Regions from separate parts of the Homo sapiens genome. Here region 1 is reported to be linked to region 2. The links are microRNA targets in miRTarBase. Many come from high-throughput screens and were not tested one by one. Region 2 holds a microRNA gene; the other region holds the end of a gene's coding sequence.

Region 1 (7,125 bases), not on the chromosome of region 2:
GAGAGGGGACGATGACGATGAGGCCGCGGCTGCTGAAATGCAGCGCTTCTCTGACCTGCTGCAAAGGCTGTTAAACGGTATCGGAGGCTGCAGCAGCAGCAGTGACAGTGGCAGCGCCGAAAAGAGGCGGAGAAAGTCCCCAGGAGGAGGCGGCGGTGGCGGCAGCGGTAACGACAACAACCAGGCGGCGACAAAGAGTCCCCGGAAGGCGGCGGCGGCCGCTGCCCGCCTTAATCGACTGAAGAAGAAGGAGTACGTGATGGGGCTGGAGAGTCGAGTCCGGGGTCTGGCAGCCGAGAACCAGGAGCTGCGGGCCGAGAATCGGGAGCTGGGCAAACGCGTACAGGCACTGCAGGAGGAGAGTCGCTACCTACGGGCAGTCTTAGCCAACGAGACTGGACTGGCTCGCTTGCTGAGCCGGCTGAGCGGCGTGGGACTGCGGCTGACCACCTCGCTCTTCAGAGACTCGCCCGCCGGTGACCACGACTACGCTCTGCCGGTGGGAAAGCAGAAGCAGGACCTGCTGGAAGAGGACGACTCGGCGGGAGGAGTCTGTCTCCATGTGGACAAGGATAAGGTGTCGGTGGAGTTCTGCTCGGCGTGCGCCCGGAAGGCGTCGTCTTCTCTTAAAATGTAGGGTCAAGTAATCTGCTCTTTATCCGCGTTTACCCCTTTCAACTCCCTTACACCATGTCAAACTTACCTTAGTGGGACATCTTCACCGGACACATTTCAGAGGAGAGAAAAAAAGTAATATTGAATCTTAAAGTGTTTAGCTAAAAGCATGAATGTGACACAGTAACCAACTCCTAATGATAACATGTGACTATTAAATCTCTCTGACAGTTTCTTTTTTAGGTGATTTCCTTCCTGCCAGGCTCCGTTGTAGGGGTTACAGAACAGTCGTTCCCGCCTCACAACCTGGTAAGGATCCATCTCTTCCCGTAACGCTCATGCTCTGCTGCTTTGTCTACTTTAATGGGCAACATCTCAGTTTGTGTGTGTGTGATTTTTTTTTTTTTTTCTGTTTTGGAAGGTGGGAGGGAAATCTAATTTGGGCCCTGTCCACCCTGGAAACAGACTTGTGCTGGTCAAGAATGTATTTAAGATGCCTCTTCTGGTTGAAATAGCTATTAATGTGTCCCCTTATTCAGACTTGCGTGTACCTAGCTCTTCTGTCCCCAGTGTGGACATGGCCTTGGATGACATCGGTTCCAACTGTACACTGAAACCTGCTTATAGAGAGACAGTTTGGAGACAGTGAAACAGGTGAAGTTGAATGGAAGTTCCGAGTTGTACAAGGTGCAAATTGGAATTCCGATTTTAGGGCAACTTTTCAGAGGTTGACAGTTAAGTATTTGGGGCATGCACAAATGTGATAGTTATTTTGCTGGAGGTGACAGGTATCTCTTAAATATCAACAATGCCTTTTAGTTTTCAGTATGAGATATAGAAACAGTCTATAATGGAGTAACATTTTAATGTCTCACCATTAGAGAAGTTGGAAATTAACATACATATGAGACTCCTGCGTTTTAGTTAATTGGAGAATAAGAATGGCTAATGTTTCTTTGAGGACCAGCAGTGATTACCCTATCACTGAGATTGAATAAATTGTTGAACATCTTTATTTTTGTTGTATTAAAATTTTAGGTTAAATTTATATATGTATGATTAGATATTGAAGGTTGTGAAATGTGAATGAAAACGTGTAAAGTGAGGCTTCACAAAGAATCTTATTCTCTGTGTTTCAAAAGTATTTGTCCTATTTTAAAATAATTTTTTAAATTGAGTGGTTCTGGCCACTTAAATGACACGATTGGTACTATTTTCCTAAGGTGGGATTTATTCCCTTGAATCTATTAACCAGTTGTATAAATTGAATTATGGTGTCCTTCAGTGTAAGAGGCATTAAGAAATTCTTTGTGAAACATCACTGCTTGATAAAGTATATACGTATTTAGCATCCTTGTTTTTCTTTGTGCTAAAGTGGATACAGCTGTTGGGGCAGAAGAGACGGGACCAGCTGCTGGCCACATTTCCTGCTTTATTTTAAAAGGTAGTATAAGAAATGAGGAAAAAGAGGTAATATCAGGGCTTCTGCTGTTTTTTATTTTTAACATGTTCATAATTAAAAAGTATTTTCCAGCAGTCCAAAGATGTAAGTTATCTTACACATAAAATGTTTTATTTTGTTATTTGGTTATGAAAATGGAATCCTTGTTCTTGCACAACTGTAAATGTTTTGTTGCTAGATAATACGATTTGAGACCTGAATTGGTCTTTGGTTTCCAGTGCATCACAGCATATTTTGTAAAATCATCTACTACTGCACTTGAGCATGAATGGGTAGTAGCCAAACTCACAAATTGGAGTGATGAACCTGCTTATACCTAAGGGCAGGAGCAAGCCCCTCACAATGCAGCTGCATGGGTTTTTAGTGCCTACTGAATTATATATATATATACATATATATATATATATATAAACCAAAAGTAGTTGGAAAGATTATTTGAAATGACTAATTTGTGCTATCTTTATGAAATATGTTAAATGTAGCTTTTTTGAAACAGAAGCCTTGAATTGAAATTTAACTAATACTTGAACATTTTGTATATATTTCTTTGTATATAATTTTGTGCAGTACCAATGACAAAAATATGGTGTCATAATAAAACCAGGTTTGTTGATCTTTTAGTTATGGGCTCAAAGAATTTATTCATCTCTAACATGATATTGGAAAATAATGGATGAAAATAGGAAAAATGATTGTTAATGCTGACTGTGGGTCTTAAAAGGTTCTGGAAAGCAGTAAGTTCATTTTTCTAAAAACTATAACATTCTGTTGGAGTATTTTCTTCCTTACGTCAATACTTTTCCTGCATTATTTGAAATTGTGGGCTGGGGAGAAACAGTAGTCAAAGCTTTCTGAATTGAGATACTTTGAAATTCCAAGTGTAGATTTTTAGAATGTCATTTTATAAATGGCAGTTTTTGGAATTACTTGATAAGAACTTTTGAAAATGGAAGGATTAGTATGGCCTATTTTTAAAGCTGCTTTGTTAGGTTCCTTATGTTTTATTAACTGTCTTTTCTCAGTTTCCATTTCATTTTTTTTTTTCTAGTTTTGGTGACTTAGTGATTTTGTCATTTTTTACATCAACTTCATGGTCTTGTTTTTACATGGTAATTGCATGTACTTAGGATCTATCTAATAGGGGCTTTAAATAAATTTGGTCATATTTATGTGTAAGCACATTTTACTGTAAATGTTTGGGTTTCTGAATTTAAACAGATCTGTTTATTTCAGTATGTAGTAAACAATATCTTAAAGTGTCCGATTCACTACTTGTTAATTAAAAAAGTTATGATTAATGTGAAACTGTTGTCTTACTATTTTTAGAAAATTGTGTTCTGGATGATTAGCACATGGATAAAGGAGATTTCTGGAATATAAAATGGATTGTTTTTGAAATTTCTAGGTTTGGCTCTATTTACTGTAATGGTTGAAAACAATTTAGTATTTGGGTGACCCTTTTGTTTTTCTTCTAAATGTGCCTCTGGTAAAATACAGAACTAGACTAAAGATGTAGCTTTTTAATATTTGTCTTTTGATGGTGGCAGGAGTTCATACATTAATTGAACTAACACATCATATTTTGACCTACTATTTCTATCATATTGACTTACTGTTTCTGCACTTCTTTGACCAGACTTATCTTAAAAAGTCCACTTTTGTTAAAATGTAGTCACACCTCTGATATAATCCAACAAGAAGTGTTCAAAATATTTTAAATATTTGTGCATTTTATAATCACTAAATTAATCTCTCTCTCTTCTCTTTGAACAGCTTAGCAGTGTCTGCAAAAACGAATCTTTTCCTACAACCTGTTAACTGACTGGACTGTTGGTAACAAAGTAATTGTGAGAACCATGTCGGTCAAAAATTTGGCATCTGCTGAAAAAAATGAATGCCATTTTCAAGTTCCCAAATTACTTCTATACTGATTTCACTTTCCAGAAATGGAGATATGAAAAGATTCTCTGGAATCCTTGAAAGACTTAATAGAGATACATGAGACTAAGTTAATCTTGGAACAAAATTATACTTTTTTTGTCTTTCATGGGAGTGATACTCAGTTATTGCATATCTTTACAAAATTGTAACCTTTGGAGAATTACAGTATTTCATCAAGAAATTAGAGTTTTTACATAATCAAGAGCATATTCTATGGAATTAACATTTAGTGGACTAGAATTACATAAGCAGGCCATCAGTGATCACAAGGCATATGAGTTTGTATTTATTTCCTGGAACATGAGAGCTAATTTGGAGTACAGACAGACACCCTGCTGAGTAGAATATAAAAGTTAATGTAAAGTTCTGAACTATAAAGAGTAGTCCTTTTAAATAGATGCATTGATTTGTATATCTTTGAAAAAGTTGATTATGATTAAATGTGTGGGTAGTTAATTACAATTTAGGGTAACAACCAGGATGTATGGATTCTTGAGGTTTTGGCTTCTTGAGCTTTCTCTTGAGTACTTGATACTGTTTTCTGAATATTTTGAGGTTTCTAATTAATGGTATGCTAGTTTCTACTGTTTTATATAAAAATTTATCTAGTGTTGTATAAGGACTTTAGTATTGTGGATGATGGGAGTGGCTTTTTGTGGCATATGGTTGTTTTAATTGAAATATTTTTTCAGTTTATTACAAGTGTGAAAAAACACTCAAAACTCTGGATTGTTTTATTTCATTTTTGTTGGATTATGTTAATACATTCCTTCACGTGGTTTAGATTGAGTCATTTTATCTCACTTACTTGGAAATGTGCAGCTGATAGAAGAGGGATTGGGTAGGAGATTGGCTTTTACTTCATAATAAATATACAGTTGGTTATTGTATTATTCAAAACTTATTAAATCCATTCAGTTTCTTACCATTTTAAGTGTATTCAGTGCCTGTGAAGCCAGGCAGCAGAGTATTCCCACTGGCTTAAAACTTAGGCGCTGATGCTCCTACAGTACAGCTAGTTATAATTCCAGAACCAAAGGCACCAACATTATTTGGTGACCTTAACTACTACTTTGATAGAACAGACTGGGTAATTCACTGATAATGAGTCATTACCTTTTTAATATGTGATTATCTAGTTCAGCATTTTGAATGTGTAGTTTAAGGTCTGATTTAGTAAAATTTTAAAGCTAAATAATCTGATGACTCTTGAAAGTTTAATTGGTAGTATGACATTTATGTTTTTTTCCCCCAGACTCACAGCCAATACAAAGTTTTGAGACTCCTAAATGTTAATATTTTTGCTGTTTTTCTGAGCTGTTTTTTTATTTACTTACCACCTAAGCTGCGGATCAAAAAGGGAATTCTTCCATTAGAAATTTGTAGTGTTGTGTGGCCAGCACAGTATTTTTCAGATTTGAATTTCAGTACCTCTGTGTAGCCTCAGTACTCTCAACACCAGTCACTCTTTATTGTCTTAAAATATTCCATACTTTTTGTTGACCCAAAATTGTTGAAAATATTTTGCTCAGTTTTCACAATGAACTAATTGAAAAGTGTAGTTACTGTGTTGTAAACATTTGTGTAGTTCTGTTAATACACTGATTTGAATTTTATTTATCTCAACTTCCTTTAGCGTCTGCCTCCAAATTTTGTCTTTGCTGTATACCCACTGAGATCAATTCCCTAGACCCCTCTGGCTCTTAGTGTACTATAATTTGGGCTTTATAAAATATATTGTCTTAATTTAAATAGAATGTGAGCCCTCTTTTTTTTTTTTTAAGCCAAATAACTACACAAAGTAAATTATAAAAGATTTAAATAGTTTGTCTACAGTGACTAGACTGAAATATAAAAATTGATTGAGGGTAGTTTACTTCAGGTGTTAGCTACAAATGACTAAATGTCCTTAAATAATGCAGATATCTGCCCTCTGAACAAAAATTTTGGCAAAGTAAATTTGTAGCAACAGACTTAACATGATTTATTGCTTATGTTGCCCATTTCTGCTAATGGAAAAGATAATTTAAAAATATGTGGCAGAGGACAGATATTAGAAATACTTTTTGGTTACAGAAACCATTGTAAACTCATCCTCATTTATAAATGGTATTATGCTAGGGAGTAATTGGACTAGGAATGTTTAAAGATAAGTAAGGAAACAATGTGTGCTCAATCGTCAAAGAACTTAGTTATATCATTGGGCTTTGAATTATCTAAGTTGATTACATAATTCTATATTCTTAAGGAGTCTTAACTCGGTACTTGGGTTAACGCCAGAAATTACTTTTAATTCATTGTTTTTTTCACTGGGATGAGTAGAACTCTGCTTTTAGTAAAAGTGACAGAATATAGGTAAAATGGATGATTTGGGATCAGAGCTTTTCATCTTGATATTTTAGCCTGTAAAATAAACAGCTATATTGTTTTGCCCTTTAAATGTTATATATATTTTTCTGTCTTTCTTTCCCTAGTTGTAAAAGTAAAGCATATTCTTTATAGAAAACTTGGAATATCCTGAAAGGAATCAAGAAGAAAAGAAAAATCACCCTTATAACTCTATAAGCCATAGAATATCCACAGTAAACATTTTGGCATGCTTCCTTTCAGTCTCTTGTGCACATAGATTCTTTTGCCTCATAACTGGGATCATTTTTTATATAAGTTTGGTAGATAATATATTTTATGTGCCTGTTGAAAGAACAAATCATCTTTGCTTTCTGAAAAATTGAGATTGTATTTTATTAATTTCACATGAGTTTTTCATCTTTGGCAGCACAGCTTTATGTTTTTCTTTAAACAGAAGCTAAAGGCCAGTTTCACTCACAAAGATGCCTTTTCTAAATTATAATTTTAAGTAGCATAAGATGACTTAACAGATATGTCACTATTTGGAAGTAATAATTAAGAGATTCATGAATAATCTTGGATGCCACTTAAAATTTTGTTTGGTACTTTTCTGTGATGATTGGCTTGCTTCATAAGTGTTGGTTTAGATCTACGCTGTCCAATACTGTAAGCATTAGTCACGTGGCTAAACATTTTAAATGGTTTAAAAGTAAAAATTCAGTTACTCAATTGCACTTGCCACATTTCAGGTGCCCAGC
Region 2 (7,115 bases):
ATGTATATATATATACTTGTCATTTGGCGTTAAAACATTGAAACATGGATAATATGAAAATACGATTGCATATTAAGTTTCTATTAAATATATTTACATTCTAGTAGGAAAATTATTGAAGGGCCTGACAAGAGATTCTCTCTGAACCCAAGGAGTTTAAAATTGAAGCTGAGGAGAAAAGACAAACAGAAACAAATCTGCACCGAATCCTTCCAGTACCAATGTTAGATACATATTTCTATAACAAGTCAATTCCTACACAAATAACAGATTTAAGAACAAGAAAACCATTATCTTATTATTTATTTGTTTATTTTACTTTAAGTTCTGGGATACATGTACAGAACGTGCACGTTGGTTACATAGGTCTTCATGTGCCATGGTGGTTTGCTGCACCCATCAACCCATCATCTAGGTTTTAAGCCCCACATGCATTAGGTATTTGTCCTAATGCTCTCCCTCCCCTTTCCCCCCACCCCCTGACAGGCCCTGGCATGTGATGTTCCCCTCCCTGTGTCCATGTGTTCTCACTGCTCAACCCCCACTTATGAGTGAGAATATGCAGTGTTTGGTTTTCTGTTCCTGTGTTAGTTTGCTGAGAATAAAACCATTTTTTTATTAAGGAGAAAGAAATGGGCTAATTTGGGGAGGTGGTGGCTGTTAAGGTGAAGGTAACCAAGATCAGCATCAGAAAGCCTAAATCTTCAATTTGTGTTTTCTGTACTACAGAGAAGAGAATTTCAGCATGAAGATTACTTGAGAAAGCATAAAAAGGTAAAACAGCTGGAAACAACAATACAGATAATACAAAAATGATTATTATGTGATATGGTGTGAATGTACCCCCCAAAAATTCATATGTTGAAACTTAATCACTAATGTGATAGTTTTTAGAGGTGGGAACTTTAGGATGTGATTAAGTCATGAGGGTGGAGCCCTCATGAATGAGATTAGTTCCTTTATAAAACAGGTGTGAGGGAGCTGCCTACCGCCCTTTTACCCTTCTGTCCTTCTTGCCATGTGAGGATACAGCATCTCTTTCTTCTTGAGGATGCAACAGCAAGGTACCATCATGGAAGCAGAAAGCAGCTCTCACCAGAAACAAAACCTCTGGGTTCCTTGATCTTGGACTCCCCAGCCTCCACAAATGTGAGAAATAAATTTCTACTGTTTATAAATTACCCAGTCTGTGGTATTTTGTTGTAGCTGCACAGAGGGGCTAAGACATTACGTGCCAAGCACTACTTTGAATGTTTAACATATTAACTCATTTAATCCTTGCAACAGCTATTAGGTTGGTGCAAAAGTAACTGTGGTTTTCGCCAATTACTTTTGTACCAACCTAATATATGAAAGGTGGGCTAATGTTATCTCTATCACATATGTGATGAAAGAAACACGGAGAGCTTCAGTGAACTGGCCTAGGTCTTAAAACTTAAAAGTCACAGAATTGGTCACAGAACTGGGCAGTCTGTGTCCAGAATCAGCACTCTCCAATGTTATGCTATCTTTCTTCAAAAGCTGAACAAGGAGAAGAATGCACCCATTCAAATTATAACCCGAGGTACCCAAAGATGAAAAAATGGCAAATATTTCAGTTTCAGAGGAGGAAACTATGTTATGAAATACTCCAGAAAACAACATATATTTAAGTGTATCATGCCCTTTAAATAAGGAGCGATATAATAATACAAAATGTGTACAGGAGAAATGTGGCCACCAACTAATCAGAATGGACTCTAGCTAGACTGGTGCAATCAGCTGAATATCAGCCTTCTTCAAACTATGGGAGAACAAGCTATTAGAGTACTGAGTTTAAATAGTAAATATTTCTATTTTGTCTTTATTGTAATGAACAAGCCCTGTCTTTAGCTCCTGCTGTGCACTTTTGGAGGGTCTTCCATATGGTTGCTCCTAAGTATTTTGGCATTTTCCCAACTGTTACAATTGGGTCAGTGGGGGGGATTGTATAGGAGTAATAAAACAAGGGTGACTGCAGCAGGGAGGAGTACGATTACTACACACATAACAGCTTATTGCCTCTCATGCGTTCAAGCACAGCTCTATGCCATTCATTACAACAGACAGCCAGGGCAAACTGCCATAGAGCTCACTCCAGAAAAGGCCCGGTCTTGAGTGCAGAGACTAAATCTTCTCACTTACATGTCTTCCTAATGTTTCCTTACTTCATCTTCCCATATCGAGAATAACTTGAGGAGAAGCAAAACAATTATATCTTGCATATTACTACGTCATTCTTAAGAAAGTTTTCTTGAACAGACTCTCAGCTAACTTTTAGCAGCAGCAGCAGCATTATCAGTGGCTATGAGGGCTTGGATATCTCAGGAGGGGAAAAATGGGAAAGGCTGGCCTGATTATCATAAATAATAATCCTTGAGACATGATTCATAAATCCAGAAGTGGCTAATAATATTGACATTATTGTTATAGTGTCAATATTATTAGCCACTTCTGGATTTCTTCCATATCAGAGATAATATTTATGAAAAAAAAAATGCTACCATTATTTTTATCCTGTGGAAGGCAGTGTTGCTTTAAACAGTAGAGACTATATACAGGTACGCACGCATAGGTTGTATTTTCCATTTTATACATGCAAGGATTCTTTAAATAATTCATTACATTTTTTCTTTAACATGATATGCAGTTTTTCACAAAAAGCCCAAATAAACGGCTGTGAGGAATTCTAATAGGATCACCGTATAGCCATGACACTTTATGATTCATGATTTACAAGAAATTAAGAAATAGAGCTGGAGACATTTAGACCAGCCTACAAATTTGTGTGTGTGTGTGTGTGTGTGTGTGTGTGTGTGTGTTTTAATGTTTCCAGGCAAGAACCTTAAACAAAAAGTGTAGCATTAAAAAACTTCCCTTCGTCCTCGAGACCCCCCCAACTCTAGACACTGGATCCCCGGAGACCCACGCTGGGTCGTCGGAGTCTGGAGCCGGGGGCGGCAGGTGAGCGGCTAGGGTCCTGCAGGGGTCTGCGCGGTGCGGGGGAGGTCGCCGAGTCAGTCAGTGCCGAAAGGACCGCGAACTCCAGGGGCCAACAATCACCGGGTACGGAACTCAACGTTTCCGCCAGTTCCTGGATTACTCGAGTAAAAACAAACAAACAACAACAACAACAACAACAAAAATACTAACAGCAATGGGACCGTAATAAATCAACTCGGAGTGGGTACAGGCGGTTCCGGGACAACCCACACTTAGTCTAGGAGCCCGGAGATCCCTCATCCAGCTTTCCCCGGGGCAAGGGGTGAAGCGCTAAGCAAGGCTGATCACTGTCCTCAATCATCACCCAACCCGCGCACAGAAGCCGTGGCCCCACGCTCTCCTATCCCCGCCAGCTCCAGACTCGCCCCGCTGCCAACTCCCGGTGCAGGAGGAACTGGCAGCCGCAGACGTGAGGAAAGCGGCCGCGGCTTCAAACTCCGTAGTGCGCAGGCGCCACACAACGCGCAGGCGCCGCCTAGAAGTGACTTCTCCAAAAAGTGTGTTAGTTCCCGGTCACCTGAGCTCCGGGTGACGCGGCTGCGGTAGCTGCGGATACAAGCCTTCCGCGGGTCCTGCCTGGCGACCCCGACCTCCTCCTGCTGTCTCTCCGCTCCGCCACCCCGAACCCGCCAAGGTCCTGTCCTTTTCCTCCTGTCCTTTGCCAGCGTTGGGCCGGACCGGGCCGAGCCGGGCCGCCCGGGCGCAGTCTTTAACCATGGCGTCCCTCTTCAAGAAGAAAACCGTGGATGGTGAGTTCCAGGCCGGGCTGAAGGGGCCCAGCTCTGCGTTTTCTCGGCGTCTTTCGAGGCCTGCTGGCCGCGATTCTGCCTACTGTCCCTGGAGGCGGGGCTGGATCAAGTGGTCCCACAGGTGACCGCCCTCGCGGCACCACTTCTCTGCCTCCCTCTTGCTTCTGACTCACCTCACCTTAGGCTCACCTAGGCAGTCTGGTTGCTTCCCTATCCTCACGATTCCCCCACCCTCGGGTTTTCCTCAGCAGGATCCTGAGCGTTTCGAGGAGGCTAGCTGGCCCTTGAGTGTCAATAAACTTGGAAATCTGATGGATTTCTTGTTGGTTTCCTCTGCTTCGATTGTTGCTCTTCAGTTGGGCGATATACTACTTGTAGGCATCCATACAGGAAACTGGCAGTCTCGGAATGGGGAGGGAGGGGATAACAGGCTCCAGTTAGGAAATGAAGTTGGGTCTGGGTCAGTTGCTTCTTTAAGAACACCCCATCAGTAAAGAGATGTGAAACAAATGCTTTTTTGATTAACCCCAGTAGAAAAATAAACCCAAGGGAAGTGCCCAGATTTAGTTTTCATAATGGATTTTTCTCCCTTATGATTATTTTTTGCCAACTAAAGAAAGAGATGGGGTATATATTGTCTTCATAGAAGTTTAACATGTAAAGATAATTGTGTTGTTTCCCGCATTTAGCTTAATATCATCTTAAGCGGGGAAAAAAGTGAATGTAAAGGAATGTACAAGTTTTATGGTGCTCATATGCGATGCCTATAATGTGTTTATATAACACTTGATGTTTTCATTGATTGCTACCAGGAATTAAATTCATTCAAGTTATTTAAAAATTGTGTTCCCCATTATATGTTTAGTCTAGGTTGTTGCTGGTTCAACCAAAGAATCACTTCTTTGTAAGGGTCTAATTCTGCCACAAAAGGAGCAGTGGTAGCTAGACAGTGATTGGTACAAATAGGGTGCTCAGTCCAGACCTGGACGTAACTCCTTCATTCCTTTGTGTTGACTATTCCAATGCCAGCAAAATTATTTTGGGGAGGATAACAAAGAAGTCATCTCTGCTCTGCTGCTGTACACTTCATTTCAACACATAATCTACTTTACCTCTAATTTATCAGATGACATAATACATTTTTCCTTACTCTGGGTGACTGAACATTTTTTTGATTTATTGACTTTTTATTAAGTACCATTTGCAATACCTGGAATAACTACCAACTTCGTATATTAGGTGATACAGTGATGTGAAATGGATTTTATGTGTGCTTTTCATGAGAATGCTGCTTAATCTTTAATATGGCACTTTATTTTTTCAGTGTTTTAGCTGCCACTGTTGTGAGCTTCACTTATTTTACAGTACTCCAGGGAGTGGGGGTGGGGGAACGATTTATTTTCTTTTTGCTTGAGTTTTATATAGTTACAGTTTTTTTTTGTTGTTTAGTTTTATATAGTGAGAATTTACTAAATGGAGAAAAAATGGTTTCATCTCCTTTACTGTGATGTTACAATTAGAGTTAATTTTTTTTTAACAATAAAAGCCAAGCATACTAGTTTTAATCGCCTAATACCTGTCAAATATTTTCAAAGACATAAATCTCAGTTCTGTGCTTCCTGGTGCTTTTGGAAATTTAGTGACTATTGTACTTGAAGTGTAGAGGAGAGAAAAAAAGACAATGGGGATGTGCAATGAGTGTTTAACTGTATACTCATTTGCAGTTAATTCTTCCAAGAAATAATGTTTTTGCTGAATAGACTTATTTGTAAAAGAGTCTTAAGGACTCTTGCTAGGAACTATGCCACTAAATTAACCATATGTGCAATTTCCAAATGTAAATTTGGCCAGCAGGTACATTTACTATAAACTACCAAGATGCATACTTGATGTTTTCTTATATTATTGTGTCAATTCCAGTCATTTACTGACATCTTAATAAATAGATCTGTATTTTCGTTATTTTGATATAGAGCTTTACTTTTTTTATTCCCTGTTTTATTGAAAGGAAGTTTTTTTTTGTTTTGTCTAAAAGGTGACAGCATTCTTCTTGGTAATGAGGCTGTATATTATGAATATGAAGTTTAATGTATTTTTATGTCTCTCAGATCGTTGGATTGATCATGAGCTCTTTTATTGTATGCTGACTTTTAAATCTGTTCCAGCAGTAATGAAATTCTGATATATAAGGGAAACATGTACCTGCCTATAGATCTGGGGAATAATTGAATCTTTTTTCCTGTTTGGATTGGCTGGAAGAGTTATATACTGTATCATTAAAGACTACTGCACATGTAAATTTAAAAGGAAGACAACATTACAGCACTTATTACTATTCAGAGTTATGTTTAATTCATTTTGACACAAAGATGAACAAGTCTCTGCGGTGTATACTTTGCTGTAGAAATTAATGAGAGGTATACCTCAAGAGAAGGGAAGGATTCTTTGGAATTTGAAATTACAGTTGAGTACTACTTGGTTTTTCTTTTACCTGTGTAAGGATATACATATATATAGTGTGTTATGTTTACCTACAGTGTTTATTTTCCCCCTTTGTAGATTAATAGTGACCTATTTAGGGAAGCTAATTATGAACCTGTAAATCAGGATCCCACTAGGACTTGTCACAAATGCACAACTAAACATGCTTAAAAGTGAAGTTCTTTAAACACTATATAATTTTTGTCTGTTAACCTCAGTAAAGACAAATTTGACTAAGCCAACACTGTGCTAAGCATTGTGCATGCCATGTCTTATTTCTCATAAAACATATAAGTACTCATATAACATCCTTATAAAATGAGAAAAGCAAAGGACTAAGTCGTGTGTTCAAGATCATACAGCTATTAAGTGTCAGAACTAGGACCTCATCCCTTTGAGTATTATTATTACTTTTTTCTTATTAGAGATTGATACATGACACAGTTTAATTTTGCTCTTATCAAGCACATGGAATTCTCAACTTTTGGTAGATACCATGCAACGTTTACATTCTTTCTGGAACCAGACTTTTCTTTCGGAATTAGTGGTAGAACTTTACTTTCTAATGGTGGTGGAACTGGAAATAACCCACTCCTGACTCTCCCTGGACACAGCATTTCTTCGAAAGTATGGCCAGTTTCTTTTTGCTTTTCATCTAAACCTTTTGAAGGAGTAGTGATGTCTTATCTCCACTTCTTTACTTAACAGACTGCCTCCCCCACCTTACAGCAGTTTGCCTTGCATGGCATGCAATGAGATGTTGCTTAGATCATCAGTAACTTCTAGATTGTCAAATCTAATGGCCATTATTAGTGAACATCTCTTGGGCCTATGTTTTGCATTTGATCCTGATAATTAATTTAT

The links. The annotated mature microRNA hsa-miR-4795-3p reads AUAUUAUUAGCCACUUCUGGAU and lies in region 2 at 2,413-2,434, opposite strand. An mRNA with a match to its seed (bases 2 to 7 or 8) in the 3' UTR can be bound and repressed. Matches are read on the target gene's strand: a 7mer-m8 pairs with bases 2 to 8, a 7mer-A1 pairs with bases 2 to 7 and ends in A, and an 8mer does both.
Region 1: the mRNA of CREBZF is a reported target of hsa-miR-4795-3p. Seed matches in the 3' UTR shown: 7mer-A1 at 2,669-2,675 and 7mer-A1 at 4,882-4,888.

Annotation. Positions count from the first base shown.
Region 1 is chr11:85,657,323-85,664,447 of GRCh38, reverse strand. It overlaps CREBZF (CREB/ATF bZIP transcription factor), which reads left to right. Exons shown (of 1, transcript NM_001039618.4): 1 at 1-6,458. The coding sequence ends at 637. Among named protein-coding and RNA genes, the nearest start is that of CREBZF, 4.2 kb to the left of the region's middle. RefSeq lists enhancers at 56-345, 456-695.
Region 2 is chr3:87,223,787-87,230,901 of GRCh38, forward strand. It overlaps MIR4795 (microRNA 4795), which reads right to left and starts at 2,491; the gene lies at 2,403-2,491. CHMP2B (charged multivesicular body protein 2B) reads left to right here and starts at 3,523. Exons shown (of 6, transcript NM_014043.4): 1 at 3,523-3,770. The coding sequence starts at 3,737. RefSeq lists enhancers at 2,975-3,114, 3,225-3,284, 3,375-3,424, 3,475-3,544, 3,615-3,734.